Linked DNA regions of Homo sapiens: all the other regions are linked to region 1. Evidence: fine-mapped QTL for protein levels in blood plasma. A gene starts in region 1. Each other region holds a variant in brackets. All regions are shown on one strand. Distances are between the middles of the regions.

What was found. PIP is the chance, under the fine-mapping model, that this variant and not a neighbour inherited with it causes the effect. The UK Biobank Pharma Proteomics Project read protein levels with antibody pairs (Olink). The fine-mapping took linkage between variants from a reference panel, not from the people measured, so its PIPs are less certain.
Region 2: its variant is fine-mapped to the plasma level of the SEZ6L protein (UK Biobank, PIP above 0.99). The variant lies in the coding sequence of SEZ6L. If it changes the protein, the assay may bind it differently, which can mimic a change of level.
Region 3: its variant is fine-mapped to the plasma level of the SEZ6L protein (UK Biobank, PIP above 0.99).
Region 4: its variant is fine-mapped to the plasma level of the SEZ6L protein (UK Biobank, PIP above 0.99).

The regions. Positions count from the first base shown.
Region 1 is chr22:26,167,018-26,172,165 of GRCh38, forward strand. SEZ6L (seizure related 6 homolog like) reads left to right here and starts at 2,445. Exons shown (of 17, transcript NM_021115.5): 1 at 2,445-2,746. The coding sequence starts at 2,653. It overlaps LOC105372971 (a long non-coding RNA gene), which reads right to left and starts at 2,217. Exons shown (of 6, transcript NR_188586.1): 1 at 1,986-2,217. RefSeq lists a silencer at 2,468-2,597 and an enhancer at 3,424-4,363.
Region 2 is chr22:26,290,695-26,295,842 of GRCh38, forward strand. SEZ6L (seizure related 6 homolog like) reads left to right here. Exons shown (of 17, transcript NM_021115.5): 2 at 1,712-2,452; 3 at 3,598-3,731. Among named protein-coding and RNA genes, the nearest start is that of SEZ6L-AS1, 47 kb to the left of the region's middle. The variant G/T (reference allele first, on the strand shown) is at 2,171.
Region 3 is chr22:25,968,290-25,973,437 of GRCh38, forward strand. The region is part of intron 39 of MYO18B (myosin XVIIIB); the gene reads left to right. Among named protein-coding and RNA genes, the nearest start is that of MYO18B-AS1, 71 kb to the left of the region's middle. RefSeq lists enhancers at 1,907-2,699, 2,700-3,490. The variant T/TATAAAC (reference allele first, on the strand shown) is at 2,531.
Region 4 is chr22:26,364,831-26,369,978 of GRCh38, forward strand. It overlaps SEZ6L (seizure related 6 homolog like), which reads left to right. Exons shown (of 17, transcript NM_021115.5): 13 at 542-736. Among named protein-coding and RNA genes, the nearest start is that of ASPHD2, 62 kb to the right of the region's middle. RefSeq lists a silencer at 2,931-3,050. The variant C/G (reference allele first, on the strand shown) is at 2,677.

The DNA.
Region 1 (5,148 bases):
AAAAATCAGATACTTATCTTTCAGATGGCAATAACCACACCTCGTTTTCAGGAAGATTATGAAATTGAAATGAGAGACCATGCTCGGTGTGGGACAGCACCTGGCAAACAGTGGATTCTTTACACAATAGTTTCCTTCTCAGTTGGGTTGTTTGGTTTTTTTCCTGTAAATTTGTTTAAGTTCCTTATAGATGCTGGATATTAGACTTTTGCAGATGCATAGTTTGTAAAATTTTTCTCCCATTCTGTAGGTTGTCTGACATTACTGGGTATATACCCAAAGGAATATAAATTGTTCTATTATAAAGACACATGCCCATGTATGTTCATTGCAGCACTATTCACAAGAGCAAAGACATGGAATCAACCTAAATGCTCATCAATGAATGAGCATATATACGGTACATATACACCATGGAATACTATGCAGTCATAAAAAAGAATGAGATCATGTTCTTTGCAAAAACATGAATGGAGCTGGAGACCATTATCCTTAGCACACTAATGCAGGAACAGAAAACCAAATATCACAAGTTCTCACTTATAGGTGGGAGCTAAATGATGAGAGCACACAGACACATAGAGGGGAACAACACACACAGAGGCCTACCAGAGGGTGGAAGGCAGGAGGAGGGAGAGGATCAGAAAAAAATTACTATTGAGTACCAGGCTTAATACCTGGTTGGTGAAATCATCTGTACAACAAACTCCCATGACACAAGTTTGCACACATAACAAACCTGCACAAGTACCCCTGAACCTAGGAATTAAAAATAGTTTCCTTGCCTCCAAGTATGGAGCTAAACTACCTCTTCGTTTTTCTCTCGCTCGCTTTCTTCCCTTTCCCCTCCTCCTCCATCTTCCTTGCTTCTTTAGGTTTCCATTGAACAAGTCTCACTGAGCACCCGCTGCATGCCTGCATTATACTATACAGAGCCTGAGCGTATAGCCACAAACAGGCAAGGTCATTCCACAGAGAGCTGGCAGCCTCATACAGTAAAGCATGGAGTGCTTCATCTTCTCCAAAGGAGAAATCAGCACTCCTGCATCCCTGCCTCAGCCACCTTCTTTATAAAAGCCAGTTGGGTTTACTGCCAGGAATGGAAACCTCTTGCAGCTGAAGATAGGATTTTATGGGGGGGCTCTCTGTCCCCCAAAGCCTGAGGCAGGTCTGGGCCTATAGTCAGTGGCCTGTAAAAGAGCATTGTTTGAGTGAGTAAATGGGGAAGCTCTGGGTGTGGAGCGTCTTCTGAAACCCTGGGCCAGAGTGCTTCTCCTTCCCTCCTCCATCCAGTGTTCACCTCCCCCACCCATTCTTTCTAGGGACTCCCGGCTCCACCACGCTGCTAAAGACATATTCCTCCCCCTGTTGCTGCCTGCAACCTTCTCTCCATCTGCTCCCTCTGCCTGTTCAGGCTGCAGTGTGTAGATAGTATGGCAAGGTAGGGTAGGGGGAGGAGGACAGCTTCTAAATTGGGTGAGAGGCCTGTAAAGCCTGACCGGTCTGCCAAGGCTACGCAGGGAGAGACAGTCAGTCTCCAGGACTGTGCATAAGCTTGTCCCCACCTAGCTCTCTGCCAATGTCTGTCCCCAAGTATCTGTTTATCTCCCTCATTGATTGTCCCTCACTACCTCTATTTGTGGAGAAAAGACTTTGCTTGAGAATCAGGCCTGGGCAAGAATGCTGCAGAGGTGGGCCTTGTAGTCCTGCTCAGATAGGGAAGCGGGTACAGGAAGAGGCAAGCGGCTGACCTGAGAGGAAGCCTCGCAGCGCTAGTGCCCTGCCGGCAGTGGGGTTATGGGAGACAGGGCTCAGATTAAAAAGTGGAGGTGGATCTTAATTTAGAGTTCGTGATTGGGCTTCAGAGGGGTCCAGACCCCCTCGTGTTAGATGCACGATTTTGTGGCTATGTGTAGTGTTCTAGTAGATTCACAGCTGTCACCAGATCCACAGAGTTACAGACTTTCTAGGTTATGGGGACTCACTTTGGAAGCAGTGAGGCCCTGGCGGGGAAGCAGGCTGGCTGGATCCCAGAGGGCTCTGGAAAGAACTGGAACTGGGATGTATCTGGAAGGCTGGGCAGGCAATGGAAAGCTCCGGGCTGCTCATAAGCTCGGTTTCCAGGGCTCCATCTCACCGTCTGGAAAATGGTCCGGGTGCTCTCCAGCCTGGCCTGGCCAGGCAGAGCTGCTGGGAGCGTCAGCAGGGAGAGAAAACGCTCGGCTCCCAGGACGCAAGGGGAATTGGCGTTAAACTTTGCAGGGCCGACGGGCCGGCGGCCAGAGGAGGCGGCTGGCACCCCCGGCGCCGCCGCGGCCCCTCCAGCTCACTGCCCGCTCGCCCGCCCCCTCCCTCCCTGCACTCGCTCGGCACAGACTCGGCCCCAGCCCCCTCCCTCCTCCCGCTCGCTCCACGCTCGTTCGCTCGCTCGCCGGCTCCTCCTCACTCGCCCGCCCGCGCCCGGCGCAGCTCGGCCAGAGCGACCGCGGGGCTGAGCGCGCGTCCGCCCAGGGGGCTCCGGAAGCTGCCCCGGCCCGCGGCCTCCTCCCTCGCTCCCGCTTCCCCTTTCTCGCTCACCGCCGCCCTCCTTCCCCAGCTCCCTCGCCGTCCGCCCGCCCCACAGCCAGCGGCTCCGCGCCCCCTGCAGCCACGATGCCCGCGGCCCGGCCGCCCGCCGCGGGACTCCGCGGGATCTCGCTGTTCCTCGCTCTGCTCCTGGGGAGCCCGGCGGCAGCGCTGGAGCGAGGTAAGCGCCCCGAGGGGCGGGGCGGGCAGGGGGCAAAGTTGCCGGGAGAGCGGGGCAGCCAGGGGTCGGGGCTGACCAGGGCGACTCAGGCACCACCCGCCGGGATGGGAAGCGGTGGTGGCTGTCCAAAATCGGGGCTAGGAACCGCACGTCCCCTTGGCCCGGGCTGATGGGAGTGTGGAGGCGGGGATGTGTTGAAGGACTCGGGCGCTTCCCTGCTTCGGCTGCGGGCTCCCTTTCGGTCTTCCCCGGCTGCGGGGCTGATTCTCCTTTGCAGCCAAAGAGGTTCTCCTTGGAGTGGGGTCGCCTCCAAACCCCAAATTCCCGGCGCTTCTCTGCAACCGCACCCGGGGCTAGGTGCCAGATAATTATCTTCCTCTCCGGGAGAGGACAGGAAGGGGGGTGAGAAGCTGACCCACCCTGCAACTGAGGACTAGACTCAAACAGTGCATTTGCCGCTCCCCCCGACACCACAGAAACCCTTGACTCCTTTGGTTCAGGCTACCCCGAGGGTCTGTGTTCCTGGATCGATCTCAGCCAAGCGTCAGGATACCGGACTTGGGTGTGGCTTTCGCTAGAGGCCGGTGGAGGGGGCTGAGGGCTCTGAGAACTTGGTAGGGGAGGGAGAAGAGATGTTAGTTAGCAGTTGGGAACCTGAACGGGCTCCCCTCTACTCTCTCCCCTACTGCCTAGCATCTCTGATCACTGTTAGGAATGGGGGGTGAGGGGTGTTAGTTTCATCTACCACGTGTTTGTTGAAGGGGAAGAGGGGCCCAAATTTAGCAGAGAATGACAGCTCCTCTTTCTCAGACCTGGAACCATACCCTCTCTCCACCCCGGTAAGGTACCCCAGGAAAAGTTATGGGTGGGGGAGAGGGCCAGATAGAGAGAGGGGTGCAACGCCTAACTCACCCAAAGCTAACCCTCAGAGCTTCGGGGGTTTTCTCAGGCACCTAGGAGACCCGAAAATCAATGGGAGGGTTAGTTGGCCACAGGACCCGGCCTTCTTGCAAGGTCCCAGAAATGCGCTCCTCACGTGTAAAAAAGCAGACAGCTGCAGGGTCTGCCCAGGCTGAAGACAGAGGGAGCGCAGGCACTATGCTTATCTGGGGCTCCGCCTCTGTCATTTGCACCGTCTTGACTCGGAGTTGGGGGACAGGCGGTGTTCTTCTCCGGGGAGTTCTGGACCCCCAGCGCGCGCACCTGCTTTCAGCACCAAAGGCCCTGGACAGCTCTCAGCTCCATGGGCCCTGGCTCTGGGTCCCTTTCCCTTCAACCCTTCCCGGTGGCCTGGAGTGCCCCCCTCAGCATAAATCAGGCATTTTATCCCCCATCTCCCCGTCTTTTTAAATGTAGAGCCCAGAGTGCAGAGCAAAGGAAATTGTTCATCACCTTTTGTTTAACAAAGCATATCATTGAAGAACCCCCACCCCTTTTTTATGGGGCAATAATGTCCACAATTTACACCAGGTCTGGACAGTTTCTCTGGGAAAGATAGGGAAAGAGATTTGGTTTAAACAAATCGTTTCCACCACAGCATGGCCTTTCTTAATTAGCTGTCTCTTTCTAACAATGGCTTGGTGGCCTTGAACTGAGTCCAGCTCTCCCTCCCCCACCCCCTTTTGAATCTGTGTTGTGACTAACACACATATAAAAAGAACCTGAATCTACCCAGCAGCTTACTGGATTTTCTAAAGCAGTTCTACCTCTGAGAACTCCACTCTCCAATACACCACCTTGCAGGGAAAAAAAAATTGTCTTAATGGCACGTATTGAATTGTCATCTAAGACAAGGATTTCCTATTCTGTTTCCTTCACGGGCTGCAAACACATTGTAAGAGCAGGGGGAGACATGTGTGTGTTTTAATTTTTAAGACATTTCATACTATTTTTCCAACTGCTCAACACCATGGCTAGCCAGCATATTTTTTAAATTGACTTCAGGTCACCACCAAATTAAAGTCAATTGATGTGCTACTTCAGAAAGCTCATTAATAAGTGTGTGGTTCTGACTCTGAGTCATAAGGAGGGAGTGATACTGGCCAATGAGCATTGCCGAGTCTGATGGTGCATTTGGAGACAATTGACCTTCCACAATAAATTCTATTTTTAATGTAGAGCCCAACATCCACTAATGTCAGATGGAGAACCATTCACCTAACTCGTTGTTGCGAACTAGTTCTTCTGCTTGCGGTGAAGTGAGGGGATTTGTAAATACTCAAAAGGGACTTGTTGCTACATTCTGATGCAGGTCACGTGGTTCTCTGGGCCATTTCGCTGTAAGGCATGAATAAGTATAAAGTATAACTTGTTTTTGAAGAGCCTCCTTATTGTCTCAGATATGCACATGGGGAATAATTGTAACTACATGCAAAGACTGCAAAGCCTAAGAATAATTTCTT
Region 2 (5,148 bases), 120 kb after region 1:
CAAGAAGTTAGCAAGGTATACAAGGCCCTCCAGGGCCTGGCCCCTGCCTCCCTACCTTACCAGCTTTATCCCCCGTACTCTCCACTTGTGCTCCAAAACCCCTTGCAATTCTTTTGTGCCCACCTCTGCCCAGCCTCCAAGCCTCCATGGGTCTTCACACAGTCCTCTGTTCTGAATCTGCCTCGTGACTCTGAATCCTAAAACATTTCTGTGTCTCCCACAAGGTCACTCTTACATTCCTTCAGTTTAAAATGTACCTCCCCCAACCCTGCTTTTACACTGTTGGTGGGAATGTAAATTAATTCAACCATTGTGGAAGATGGTGCTGAGATTCCTCAAAGATCTGGAACCAGAAATAGCATTTGACTCAGCAATCCCATTACTGGGTCCCATTACATATATACCCAAAGGAATATAAATCATTCTGTTACAAAGATACATGCATGCACATGTTCATTGCTGCACTATTCACAATAGCAAAGACGTGGAATCAACCTAATGCCCATCAATGATAGACTGGATAAAGAAAATGTGGTACATGTACACCATGGAATACTATGCAGCCATAAAGACAAACAAAATCATGTCCTTTGCAGGGACATAGATGGAGCTGGAAGACATTATCCCTAGCAAACTAAGGCAGGAACAGAAAACCAAACACCACATGTTCTCACTTATAAGTGGGAGTTGAACAATGAGAACACATGGACACAGGGAGGGGAGTAACACACACTGGGGCCTGTTGCGGGGTGGAGTTGGGGGAGGGGAGAGCATTAGGAAAAATAGGTAATGCATGCTGGGCTTAATACCTAGCGTGGGTTGATAGGTGCAGCAAACCACCATGGCACATGTTTACCTACATAACAAACCTGCACATCCTGCACATAGGCCCCAGAACTTAAAATTAAAATTTAAATTTAAAAAAACTCTCCTCCCCCATCCCCCAAGCCCAGCCAGAGCACACAGCTTAGAAAAGAGAGTGTGGCCTGGTGTCCATCCCCACTCATCCTCTTAGCTGCATGTCTTTGTACAGGGAACAATCTGCCCAACTGTACATGGCATGCCTGTCCTGCAGACGGGGTTAGGGCCCGTCCTCTCTGCTCTCTTAGCACACAAGCTTTTCTCTTTCCAAGCATTCATCATATCAAATATGATTGTGTCTACTTTCCCATCCCCCTTCCCAGTACATATACAACCAGGCAGTGAGGCCCCTGTGCTTTTTGTTTCTATACTCCTAATGCTTAGCTCAGTCCTGGCATGATCAAGCCCAAGTCTTCAGGAAAAGGAAGGAAGGAAGGAAGGAAGGAAGGAAGGAAGGAAGGAAGGAAGGAAGGAAGGAAGGATGGATGGAAGGAAAGAAGGAAGGAAATGAAGGAAGAAAATGAAGGAGGAAGGAAGAAAGAAAAAAATGGAAGGGGAAAGGAAGGAGGGAGGGAGGAAAGAAAGAAAGAAAGGAAGGAAGGAAGGAAGGAGGAAGGAAAGAAGGAAGGAGGGAGGGTGGGAGGAAAAGAAGGAAGAAAAGAGAAAGAGGGAGAGAGGGAAGGAGGAGAAAAAAGAAAGGAAGGGAGGGAGGGAGAAAGGAGAAGTTGGTTTAGAGGCCAGCCGGACGAGCTTTGGGCACCGCCCTTAGGAGGGCCACCCTCAGAGTCTGACAGCAGGTGAAGGTCCTAAATCTCCCCAAACTAACTGGTGTCTTTTCTCCTCTTCCAAGATGCTCTTCCCGAGGGAGATGCTAGCCCTTTGGGTCCTTACCTCCTGCCCTCAGGAGCCCCGGAGAGAGGCAGTCCTGGCAAAGAGCACCCTGAAGAGAGAGTGGTAACAGCGCCCCCCAGTTCCTCACAGTCGGCGGAAGTGCTGGGCGAGCTGGTGCTGGATGGGACCGCACCCTCTGCACATCACGACATCCCAGCCCTGTCACCGCTGCTTCCAGAGGAGGCCCGCCCCAAGCACGCCTTGCCCCCCAAGAAGAAACTGCCTTCGCTCAAGCAGGTGAACTCTGCCAGGAAGCAGCTGAGGCCCAAGGCCACCTCCGCAGCCACTGTCCAAAGGGCAGGGTCCCAGCCAGCGTCCCAGGGCCTAGATCTCCTCTCCTCCTCCACGGAGAAGCCTGGCCCACCGGGGGACCCGGACCCCATCGTGGCCTCCGAGGAGGCATCAGAAGTGCCCCTTT[G/T]GCTGGACCGAAAGGAGAGTGCGGTCCCTACAACACCCGCACCCCTGCAAATCTCCCCCTTCACTTCGCAGCCCTATGTGGCCCACACACTCCCCCAGAGGCCAGAACCCGGGGAGCCTGGGCCTGACATGGCCCAGGAGGCCCCCCAGGAGGACACCAGCCCCATGGCCCTGATGGACAAAGGTGAGAATGAGCTGACTGGGTCAGCCTCAGAGGAGAGCCAGGAGACCACTACCTCCACCATTATCACCACCACGGTCATCACCACCGAGCAGGCACCAGGTATGCAGCCCCCAACTCCTGAAGCCATCCTGAAACAGCCATGAGGCACTCACTATGTTCAGGGCATGTGGGTAGAGGAATCTCAAGAAGCCCCGGCCCCACCATCAGTTACCGTCCATTGAGCACTGACTATGAGCTTCGCCCTGTGGCTCAGAATTAATAGCCTCATTTCATTTGTTTGTTGTTTTGGGGGGTTGTTTTAGCAAAGGGGTCTTGATCTTTCGCCCAGGCTGGAGTGCCATGGCACGATCATAGCTCACTGCAGCCTCAAACTCCTGTGCTCAAGTGATCCTCTTGCCTCAGCCTCTTGAGTAGCTGGGACTACAAGCATGCACTATGATGTCCAGCTAATTTTTTTGTTTTTTGTAGAAAGGGGGTCTTGCTTATTGTCCAGGCTGGGGAACTCCTGGGCTCAAGCAATCCTCCCACCTCAGCCTCCCAAAGCACTGGGATTACAGGCATGAGCCAGGACACTCAGCCAACATCCCCATTTTAAAGATGAGACAACTGAAACCCTGAGACCCCCAAGCAACCTGCCAAAGGTCACACAGCTAATGAGCAAGATTCAAAACCTTTTCATCTTGGAACGGAATTCTTCATTTAACCTGCTTCAAAGCCACTAGCCTTTTCAAAGCACATTTGCTTTTAGCATTACATGTATTTTCTAGACTTGATAAAATGCTCTTCTGTGTTCCAGTCTTCTCTACCATCTTTAAAATGGGAGAAGGACCCCCAATTGTCAAGCATACATGGATTTTGGACAAGTGCAATGTGGCCACCCTTCAAAGCACGTGAGCTCTGGGTCCAAATCCTGCTTGCTGTTTGAGCTCGGCCCCTCTCTGAGCTTTTGTTTACTTCCCTCTAAACTGGGGATGAAATATTATCAGTCCCTATGAGAATAAGTGGGGTCACCCCTGTTGACTAGCTAAAATGGTGCCTAGCAGGATATAGTAAGTGATCATTCTGTGTCAATTATTGCTATTTTTATTATCATGTCAATTCTGGAGCTGAGGAATTAACAGCAGAAGGACAGATGGGAACAGCAAAATGCAGGTTCCCCTAAAGCCCCCATTCCACCCCACAGCCCATGGTTGAGCTTACATCCAAGTTGTCTTTGGTGTCCTAATTAAAGTCCTTCCTTCCAGCTCTCTGCAGTGTGAGCTTCTCCAATCCTGAGGGGTACATTGACTCCAGCGACTACCCACTGCTGCCCCTCAACAACTTTCTGGAGTGCACATACAACGTGACAGTCTACACTGGCTATGGGGTGGAGCTCCAGGTAACCCCAGGAGAGTACCTCACAGAGGCTGCCTCGTCTAGCAGGAAGTCTCAGGAGGATTGTCTGAGTCAGGCTTACTGTTATGCTAACTAGTTTGGTTCTGTCTTTGCCCAACCAGGCCAACTTTAGCTGGGTTTTGGCGAATGAGTAGGAGTTCTTAACTCAATGCTTTGCTAAAATAGCTTGTGGGGATAGAGGGAACATGCTGACAAATTCTGAGGTATTTCCCAGAAGGAAAATCCCTTGATACTCTGCTTATCTCACACACACATACACACACGCATGCACGTGCATAAACACACACACACACACACACACACACACACACACACGGAAGCTCCACCTGATTCATTTGATTCTTTCTTGCTTGCTTGCTTCCTTATTTCTCTTTCTCTTTCTTTCTTGCTTGCTTGCTTGCTTCCTGCTTTCTTGCTTCTTTCTCTTTCTCTTTCTTTCTTTCTTTCTTGCTTGCTTGCTTGCTTCCTGCTTTCTTGCTTCTTTCTCTTTCTCTTTCTTTCTTTCTTTCTTTCTTTCTTGCTTGCTTGCTTGCTTTCCTTCATTTTCTGGTTATTAGGACATTTTATTCTTAAACTTTTGCCCATACAGTAAGAAAGGAAAAGCAGGGTGGCATAATGCTCAAACATCTGGGTTTTAAGTCCTACCTCTTCCAGTTAAAACTGCGTGACTTTGAACAAGGAACTTCACCTCTCTGAGCCTCAGTTTCCCGATCAATAAAATAGGAATAATGTTACTGCTTTGTAAAGTTTGGGGGAGCAGTAAATATGACAATGCAGAGATCATTTGGCCACAGCCCAGCAGAGAGAGAGGGAGGAGAGAGAGAGAAATCATTTGGTCAGAGCCCAGCAGAAATCGCGACCATGCAGTGCATGTTATCCATTATCTTCAGTATGCTAATCACCCTGAATGTGTTCCTTTTTCTCATGGGAAATAAAGAGCCATCAAAAGTTTCTGAGCTGGGGCAGGTGTATGACCTTACCTTAGGAAGGTTTTTTGTTTTTGTTTTTGTTTTACTTGTATAAGAGAGACAAAAGGTAAGCCCCTCAGCAGTAGAACCTGTAGTCTTTGCAGTCCCCAGAGCTTTGCACAAGTGTGTGGCACATTGTAGGTCCTTAATAATTGTTCATGGAATTAAAATAAACTGGAGAAAACCTGCAGTCCAGATTATTATAGTGCTTAAGAACCCTTTCCTCCATGTCATGAAGAGTATTGGACCCAGTATGTGTCCAGTACTGTGTGGAGCCTTTTACCAGGCACAGTAGAGTTCATTCATTGAGCAATTAGAATGCACCAGGCAAAGCTGTTGACACAGGAGAATATGTTGATGTAAAAAACTGATGCAATGCCTGCCCTAAAAGAGAAATACGTAGGATGCCATTTAGTAGGGACTCTAATTGGT
Region 3 (5,148 bases), 200 kb before region 1:
TCCAGGAGTAGAGTCAGCTCCACCCTAGCCATATGGATGGAGAGTAGAAGAATAGATTCCCCCAAGGAAAATTGAAATGTTAGTGCCAGAAGGAGGAGAAATGGTTTCCAAAAAGGCAAAGCCTTTGGATGCCCACTGTGGAAGCCACATCTGTGGGCCTTGACTCTTGCAGAGATCTCTCTGCCTTGCCACAGGCCCCTTCTAGGTTTTATCTTCTCTGCTTGTGTTCCTGCCTCCTGCTTGACTTTTTCCTCCTCCTTTTTGTATATTTTCTGTTACTCCTGGGGCTGGGACATCCCATAAGTAGGGTGGATCAAAGAAAGGAAATGGAGGCCGGAAGTGGACAGCCTAAATTCCCTTTCTATCTTCTCAAAGGGAGTGGCTCACACAGTAGGAGGAGCTTGCCTTGAAGCCAGGAAGTCTGGGTCCAAGCCACACTTCTGCCTCTGACTGACTCTGTGGACTTGGGCACATCTTTTCCCTTGCTGGACTCACTTTCTCTCTCTGTAAAACGGACCAGACGACTTTTAAAGCTCTTTCTGCTGAGACCCCTGGGCAAGCCCAGAGCTGGTTGGTCATAGAGCTGCAAGCTTTGAGTGTGTCTCAAATGGCTGATAGTCATGGTGGCAGCTTCCTCTGAAACAAGCACATTCCTACACCCCAAGAGCAATGCACAGAGTCACACAATCTCAAACCTGAAGGTGCCCAGGCCTCTTCATTCCAACTGGTATCTTCTCCAACCTCAGACTGGTAAAAATTCCATCTCTGTTATGCAACTGTGGGGTTGGGGAAATTACTACCTCTGTGGGCAACAACATTCCCATAGACCTCCCCTTCTCCATCCCATTCTAGATTGATTCTATAGCTACCCCACAACTGGATTCCAGATGTGTCACCTTATCTGTTGGAGAGAGGGTTTCAAAGGACAGAGAGATATCCCTTGCTTATCTCACCTGGGAGTTAGCAAGGAGGTATCCAGAGATTACCACGTTTTTTTCTTCTTTTAAGTAGCCAAATCTTATTTTAAATCCATAGCTGATACAGATTTGTGGTAAGTAAAAGCAGAGCTCCCCATTAGGGCTCATCTACTTTTCCACCCTGGCCCCTGAGGCAGCACCATAAAATACAGCTTGATAACCTATGGTCAGATCTGGCTGCTGTCCTGATTTTTATAAATAAAGTTTTATTAAGACATAGTCACAAACATTTACCTATTTTCTATGGCTGCTTTGGGGCTACAACAGCAGAGAGGAGTATTTGTGATAAGACCATTTGGCCTACAAAGTCCAAGATATATACTACCTGGTCCTTTACAGAAAAAAAAATCACTTACCTTTGCCCTAGAACATTGCTTAGCACAGAGTAGGCATAAAAAAATACATGCTGAGAGAAGAAAGAGCTTGACAGGACAAAGAACTGGGAATAAGGAGACTTAGATGCAAATCTCAGTTCCATCATGTCCTTACTGTGTGACTTTAGTCAAGGCACTCACTTTCTCTGTTTCCCTGTTAACTCATAAAATGGAGACAATTATTGCAACTGCTTCACAGCATTGTGGGGATTACTTAATAAAATAATGTGTTTAAATACTTATTACAGTGCCTGGCACAAAGTAAGCCCGCCTATCATCATCATCATAATAACCATCATCATCATCATTATCATCATCATTGCCATATCATCTTCTTCATCACCACCACCATCACCACCAACACATCATCTTTTCCACCATTCCCACCATCAGCATCACCTCCATTGTTACCACAACCATTACCATCATTATCTTCATCACTGTCATCATCACCACCATTTGCATCATCATCACCATCACCATCAATCATCATCTTGATCACCACCATCATTATCATCACCATCATTACCACCACCACCATCATGAAAATTATTATTATCACTCTCATCACTGTGACCACCGCCATCATCATCACATCATTATCAGAGTGAGACTAGAATCAAAGAGCACTGCAGAGCCCCTTCAAGAGTAGGCAAGCCCTGTGATTCAGAGCAGGCATATAAGTCTAGGCCAGTGGTTGAATTATTTCCTATTTGAAAATTCTGTGAATGACGTCCCCAAATGCAGTATACCCCACCTTGTGACCTGTGAGTTCATAGATGCCTCCTTCTTTGTGCTCAGTGTCCTGAGTGTCAGCTTCATTGGAATTCTGCCTTCTCCAGCCTTGTCTTGGCTGCATTCCAGGTAAATGACTCGGAGCCCATCTTGCTGCATGTCACCTCTGCCGCCCGCCCGCTTGGATAATTAGAATCAACACATTCATTTCCCTAACAGCATTCTCATCTCCCCCTCTCAAAGTTTTCAAATGGAAAAAGAAAGGCAAAAACAAGCTACATCTGTCCTTGTTCAGGCAATTTGCAGCTGTCTGCAGCTGACATCCACCCAGCTGGGCGGCAGAACTAGCTTTCCTGTTTGCTTTTGGTGGAAGATGATGTGGTTGATGCTGTTATTAAAGTTTGGCAGTGGTTTGGAGACAAAGCGTCCTGCTGGAGAGAGACT[T/TATAAAC]AAACACTCAGGGGGAATCCTTCAGGCTCCTGCCTTTGTGAGCTAATTGCTTGGTGGGTGGGGAGAAGAAAAAAGACTGATGTCACTTTTCAGCAAACAAAAGGAAAGGAACTCAAGAAATAAGATGATTTTCGGTTTTTGCTTCTTTCTGAGAGCCTGCTGAGTTTGCACACAGGTAGCAACTGGATGCTCTGATCCAGGGACTGGCAAGTATTTTCTGTAGAGGGACAGGTAGTAAATATTTTAGACTTTGTAGTCCATACTGTCTCTGTCACAACTACTCAACTCTGCTGTCGCAGCACAAAAGCAGCCCTAGACATTATGCAAATGAATGAATAGATGAGCGTGGTTATGTTCCAATAAAACTTTATTTAGAAAAACAGATGGTGGACTGGATTTGGCCCACGGGCTGTAGTTGGCCAACTCTTGCTCTATGCTCTGTTGGAAGAAGAAGTGGAGTTGGAGGCAGACAGCAGAGCTGGGTTTAAATCTTGTCTCGATCTCTTTCAGGCACCTGTCCTCTTTGAGTCTTTGTTTCTTCATCTGTAGAATGGGTTATCAGGTAGTTGGGAGATTAGAATGTTTTGCACATGTTAAGTGGTCAATAAATTGTAATTCTTTGTAGTACTCACCCGCTGACCCCAGCCAAAAAACATGAGAGAGTGAAACCAAATAAAGAAGGCTGTCTGCTTTCCTGTTGGCCCTAGCTATGGTTACAGTTCAGTGATGCAGATCTTTTTGTAGCTCATTTGAGAGTCTGGCAGCTCTGAGTTTCCCAGGATGATCCTTCTGTTGTCTGTTCCTACCAGTGCCTTCCCACACCAAGATGCCTTCCTGTGTTCAGACTATTTCGTTTCCATCACAAAGGCGCGGCCTCAGTTAGGAAATCCCAAGTATGCAAATTAAGATTCTGTTTATGCACTTTTGTTGTTTAGAGAGAGTAGTTTTTGTTGTAGTTGGGTCGACATTAAAGACTTGTTGTCTGTAAGCCAAAGACATGGCTGCATGTCAAATCTAACAATCATGTTTGCATTTTAACTGGTATGATTTTCAAACAGGGTCCTAGGGACAATTCAGACTTATGTGTGCTGATACTCATAGTTAAGATTCACTTAACCTGAAAGGGCAAAAAAAAAAAATTTTTTTAGTAGAGACGGGGTTTTGCCATGTTGGCCAGGCTGGTCTCGAACTCATGACCTCAGGTGATCCACCTGCCTCTATCTCCCAAAGTGCTGGGATCACTGGGATTCATGCCACTGCATTCCAGCCTGGGTGACAGAGTGAGACTGTCTCAAAAAAAAAAATACATACATATATATATAAATAAAATATATGTATTTTATATTTATATATGACTCACAGGTCATTACATATATATTTTTCCATGAATATATGCATATATATATACATAGGAAAAGTGTGACCAGAACCCCGATTTGTGATTCTGTGGTTAGTTGCTTGCTTGGTTTGCATCTGTTAAGGATGTCAGCTGGAGGTATATTTTAAGTTGCATTATGTATAGCTTGTATTTACTTGTTATTATTACTTATATAACAGCCTATCATTTGTGCCAGGCCTGAGCATGTTTTATACCTCATGTCATTTAATTCTCTTCAATTTCGTGTGACTTATGGCTTTACTTTTCAAAATATATTCGCAGATCAGCAGCCTTGGCTATAGAAATGTAGAGTCTCAGGCTCAGCCCCACACCTTTGAGTCAGAATTGGCTTTTTAACAAGGTCCCAGGTGACTCCTAGGCACAGCAGCATGGCAGGAGCCCTGATGTCGGTATTTCATCAGCACTGAATTGCAGGTGAGGAGACTAAGGCTGAGAGAGGTTAGAGACGAGATCTCGGCTGGGCACGGTGGCTCACGCCTGTAATCCCAGCACTCTGGGAAGCCGAGGCAGGTGGATCACCTGAGGGCAGGAGTTGGAGACCAGCCTGGCCAACATGGCGAAACCCCTTCTCTACTAAAAATACAAAAATTACCTGGGTGTGGTGGTGCATGCCTGTAATCCCTGCTACTCCGGTGGCTGAGGCATGAGAATTGGTTGAACCTAGGAGGTGGAGGTTGCAGTGAGCCAAGATCGTGCCACTGCACTCCAGCCTGGGTGACAAAGTGACTCTGTCTCAAAGGAAAAAAAAAAAAAAAAAAAGAGATAGGATCTCCTCCCATGCAGATCTCACCCACACAATCCACTACACAATTTAGCTATGGTTCCTGCCTCTGTATTACTGATTTGTTTTTTTGCTTCTAGATCTTGTTTCTGAAGGACACTATCTACTTCCTATTGTTAAGCATCACTTTCTTCTTGGTGCTTCCAGTGTGGGGTCCAGAAGCTAACCACACACTTAGTAGGTGTTCCAATATTTACTAATTGCCGAGTGAACCCATGAAACATTCACACATGCAAAAGTGAGAGCTTACTCTTAAAAATGGGGTGGTGGTGGTGGCTGTGAATATCAATCAAAAGGGTTTCCTGAGCACATCTGCCCTTCAGGGCTTTGCATTTTTAGAACATAGAACAATAGCACCTCTTAGAACCTTCAGACCATAGAAATATAGAACACAGAACGTAGGACAGAACCCAGTGGCTCTTGGCCTGGAGTTCCTCC
Region 4 (5,148 bases), 200 kb after region 1:
AGGAGAAATGAAGATTGAGTATTGAAAGACAAGACGTAGTCATAATGGATGCGCAGGTTAGGTGTCAGGTGAAAAGCAAGAAGAAGATTTCATAATTAAACACCACCACCGTCCATCATTTACTAAGTACGTATGACATGCCAAAAACAAAACATCTTAAGCATTTCCTTACTTACCTATTTTAGTCCTCCAAATTCCTAGGAGATAGATATTACTTTGATCGTCGTTATGCTAATGAGGAAACTAAGGATCAGAAAGGTTATGCCACTTGCTGGCGATCACACAGCTAACAAGTAACAGAACTCATATTTTAACCTTGATTCCTCAGCCAACTTCATTCTACCTTGCCTGTATGTAATCTGTGCCCAGAGGTGGAAGACAGAAAGAACAGTTTGAGAAATAGAAAACAGTCTGATGCAAGGTGGGGATGCAGAGAGAGGATGCTGGAGAGGCTGACCAAAGCTAGATCACACGGGTTCTGAGCAGGACTCCCCAAAGATTTGCATCATCTCATCAGAGCTCCTTCTGGCTTGCATTTCAGCGGAGGAGTCCCTGGCATGTGACAACCCAGGGCTGCCTGAAAATGGATACCAAATCCTGTACAAGCGACTCTACCTGCCAGGAGAGTCCCTCACCTTCATGTGCTACGAAGGCTTTGAGCTCATGGGTGAAGTGACCATCCGCTGCATCCTGGGACAGCCATCCCACTGGAACGGGCCCCTGCCCGTGTGTAAAGGTAAAGAAACCTACTCACCACACAGGGTCCACGGGGCCTGGAGATGTCAGGCTCCTGGCTCACAGGAGTTCTGAACTTGCTCTAAAAAATTGGACTAGGAGTTCGAGACCAGCCGAGGCAACATAGTGAGACCCCCATCTCTACCAAAAAAAAAAAAATTAGTCAGGCATGGCGGCACACACCTGTAGTCCCAGCTACTCGGGAGGCTGAGATGGGAGGATCACCTGAGCCTAGGAGGTCAAGGTTGCAGTGAGCCTTGATCATGCCACTGCACTCCAGCCCGGACAGAACGAGACTCTATCTCAAAAAAATTAAATTAAATTTTAAAATAATAGAGCTGAGCTGCTGTACTTCATTAAATCTAAGATGTCACCATGACTTTATGCACCACTAAAAAAGAAAAAAACATGCTGCCAATTATACTATGACACAATGTCTTCTCCTGGCTTAGCATTTTTATTTTTACTTACTAAAGGAGCTTTTGACCAGGCACAGTAGCTCACGCCTGTAATCCCAACACTTTGGGAGGCTGATGCAGGCATATCACTTGAGGTCAGGAGTTCAAGACCAGCCTGACCAACATGGTGAAACCCCATCTCTACTTAAAATACAAAAAAATTAGCTGGGCGTAGCGGTGCATGCCTGAAGTCCCAGCTACTCGGGAGGCTGAGGCAAGAGAATCACTTGAATCCAGGAGGCAGAGGTTGCAGTGAGCCGAGGTGGCTCCACTGCACTCCAGCCTGGGTGACACAGCGAGATTCTATCTAAAAAATGAAAACATAAAGGTCTTTAAGCTTTTTATCATATATCACAATTATGAAAATGTTCAAATGAAAATATAAGCAGCCCAGGTGCAGTGGCTCACACCTGTAATCCTAGCATTTTGGGAAGCTGAGGTGGGAGGATTGCTTGAGCCGGGGAGTTTGAGACCAGCCTGGGTAACATGGTGAAACTGTCTCTACAAAAACAAAATAATGATAATAATACAAAAATTAACCTGATGTGGTGACGTGTGCCTGTAGTCCCAGCTACTTGGGAGGCTAAGGTGGGAGGATCACTTGATCCCAGGAGACAGAGGTTGCAATGAGCTATGATCATGCTACTGCACTCCAGCCTGGGTGACAGAGTGAGACTCTGTCTCAAACAAACAAACAAACAAACAAACAAAATACAAGCAAAATAAACTGGTTCCAGTGTATTTAAAACTTCCCCACCTTCAAAGTCTGGCACTTTTGATTTTCTAAATTATTACTAAATTTTTTTGTAGAGACAGGGTCTTGCTATGTTGGCCAGGCTGGCCTAGAACTCCTGACCTCAAGCGATCCTCCCTCCTCTGCCTCTGAGTAGCTGGGATTGCAGGTATGAGCCACCACACCCAGCTGTAGAATCATTTTTTACTCCAAGTCTTCAACATCCTATTTTTCCACTCAATATCGCTCCTGTTGAATGTCATTGTGTACTAAAATATATATACATTTACATACATACATAGCTCCTGTCCCATTAAAGCATCAGGGATGCAGAATTCTGTAGGAACGTCCATAACGAACTAAAGTCTTTGATACAAGGGGCTTGCAGTTACATTGAGGCAGGGCTGGGACGAGTCTGAGGCAAAAGAGGTGCCTGAGGTGAAAAATGTAAGGAGGTGACCAAGCGTCCCGTAGAACAGCCTTAAAAAAAGAGTCTCCGTACACTTCTCGCCCTAGACAGCTCTCGCCTTGCCCTAGTCCCGGCCCTGTGATCCAGCCTGGTTTTTGTTGATTTGTTTGTTTGTTTTTGTTTGTTTGTTTGTTTGGAGACAGGGTCTTACTCTGTTGCACAGGCTGGAATGCAGTGGCGTGATCATTACTCACTGCAGCCTCAACCACCTGGGCTCAAGCTATCCTCCTACCTCAGCCTCGCGAGTGGCTGGGACCACAAGTGCACGCCACCACGCCCAG[C/G]TAAATTTTTTTATTTTTGTAGAGATGGGGGTCTCGCTATGTTGCCCAGGCTGGTCTCTACTCCTGGCCTCAAACGATCCTCCCACCTCGGCCTCCCAAAGTGCTGGGATTACCGCATCTGACCTCTGCCTGCTTTTGACCCCTGCTTAGAGAACCCTGCTTAATTATTTCCCACCTCTTGCACTGCCTCCTCACAACCAGTTAGTTCCCATGGGTTAGGAGTGTTCCTCCACTGCCTACAGGGTGATCTCCCAGGGCGTTACCTGGCGTTCTGCAAACCCTAATACTCTTAACGCCCCCAGTTTGTGCACACGGGGAATCGTGAGCGCCACCTGGTGGCAGCTATTATTACACATTATTGCTTTAAGCCTCGCCCCCACCTCCCAGATGGTGAAGTGAGAAAATTGCATCTTAGAATCCATTGAACACTCATCACTAAAATTAAGTTGTAACACACTAAGTAAAATTTGGATTCGTTTATCTGGACTTTTGAAGTGCACAATCAGTAATAGTAACGGAAATATGTTCAGTGTTTTAGGCCAGTGGATCTTAACCTTTATTGCTTTAGTGCCCCTTTGAGAATCAGGCAAAAGGCTCGAATTTGCCCTCCAGAAGGAACAGAAGCATGAAGTTTTATGTCTCTACTTGGGAACCCCTAACTTCAGTGGATCCCCAAATGCCTTATTCATGAACCCCAGCTCTGAGGCTTAAAACTACTTTCCCAGTTAGTTTGTCCACTCCGAGGTATATTTCCAAAAGAAGTGAAACAGGTATTTAAGCAAACCCTGTCTAAGAATGTTTATAGGAGCACTATTCACAATAGCCACGAGATGGAAACAACCCAAATGCCCACCAACTGATGAATGGATAAACAAAAGTGTGGCAGAAAAAAGGGAATATTATTCAGCCATTAAAAGGAACGAAATACTGACACATACCACAACATGGATGAACCTCAAAGCCGTTATGCTGAGTGAAGGAAGCCAGACACAAAAGGTCACATGTTTTAGGGTTCTGTTTCTAGGAAACATCTAGAATAGGTAAATCCATAGAGACAGAAAGCAGAGTCGTGGTTGTCTAGGGACTGCTTACTGAGTATGGGGCTTGTTTTGGAGATGAAGAACATGTTTTGGAACTAGGCAGAGGTCATGGTTGCGCACCATTGTGAATATGCTGAATGCCACTGAATTGTAACACTTTGAAATGGTTAATTTTATGTTATGTGAATTTTATCTACCTAAAAAAAAAAACAATTCCCCTGAATCACCTCTGTTAAGTCTTATGACCACTGTCTAAGATAGGTGAGCCATCTTACCTGTTTTACAGATGTGGAAGGAGAAGCTCAGAGAAGTTAAGTGATTTTCCCAAAGCCACACAGCTAGTACAAGACAAAGCTAGGACTTGAACCCGCATCTCATGACTGTAAATTTCCCGCCTTCAGGGCTACTAAGAAAGACCCCCAACCAGCCAGTCACCGCAGCATGGAAACCTAGGTGTGTTCACACATTCCCGAATCTAACCCAGATCTCCCAAAGCAAAATCATTGAGAGGCGGGCCTGGAATAAGCCTTTTAACAAGCTCTCAAATGCACTTTGAATGTGAGAACCATTTAAGGCCGTGATTTCCAAACATAAACGGAGTCCTGAGCCCTTTCCACGGAGATTCTGATTCACTGGGTCTAAAGCAGGACCCAGGGACCAGTTTAACTAACCACACAGGTGAATTGTATCATCAGCCAAGTATGGGAAACACTAGCATGAGGGTTGCAATTTAATCTTACCAGGTATCAAGCAGGGGCTCATCACGTGAATGACAATGACTTATATAAGCAGTTCTTTTGTTTTTTTTTTTGAGACAGATTCTCGCTCTGTCCCCCAGGCTGGAGTGCAGTGGCTGGATCTCGGCTCACTGCAAGCTCCGCCTCCCGCATTCACGCCATTTCTCCTGCCTCGGCCTCCCGAGTAGCTGGGACTACAGGCGCCCGCCACCACACCCGGCTAATTTTTTGTATTTTTAGTAGAGACGGGTTTTCACCGTGTTAGCCAGGATGGTCTCGATCTCCTGACCTCGTGATTCGCCCACCTCTGCCTCCCAAAGTGCTGGGATTACAGGCGGAGTCACTGCGCCCGGCCGTAAGCAGTTCCTAATAAGAGAACAAGGGGTCCTTTTGAAGAGCAGCGAACAGTAAGAAATCCACAATTAGCATTCAAGACAGCTGCCTTCCCTCATTCCCCCATAATTTTGACTAAGTCCAGCCCAGTGTTTGAATTTATTTTATTTGTGTATTTTTAATAGAGACGGAGTTTTGTCATTTTGCCCAAGCTGGTCTTGAACTCCTGGGCTCAAGGGATCTGTCCACCTCAGCCTCCCAAAGTGCTGGGATTACAGGCGTGAGCCATCATACCCGACCTGAATTTATTTTTGATAGCACAGGAAACCTGCTTTGCAGAGCTTAAGTATTGGGAAGTTCCT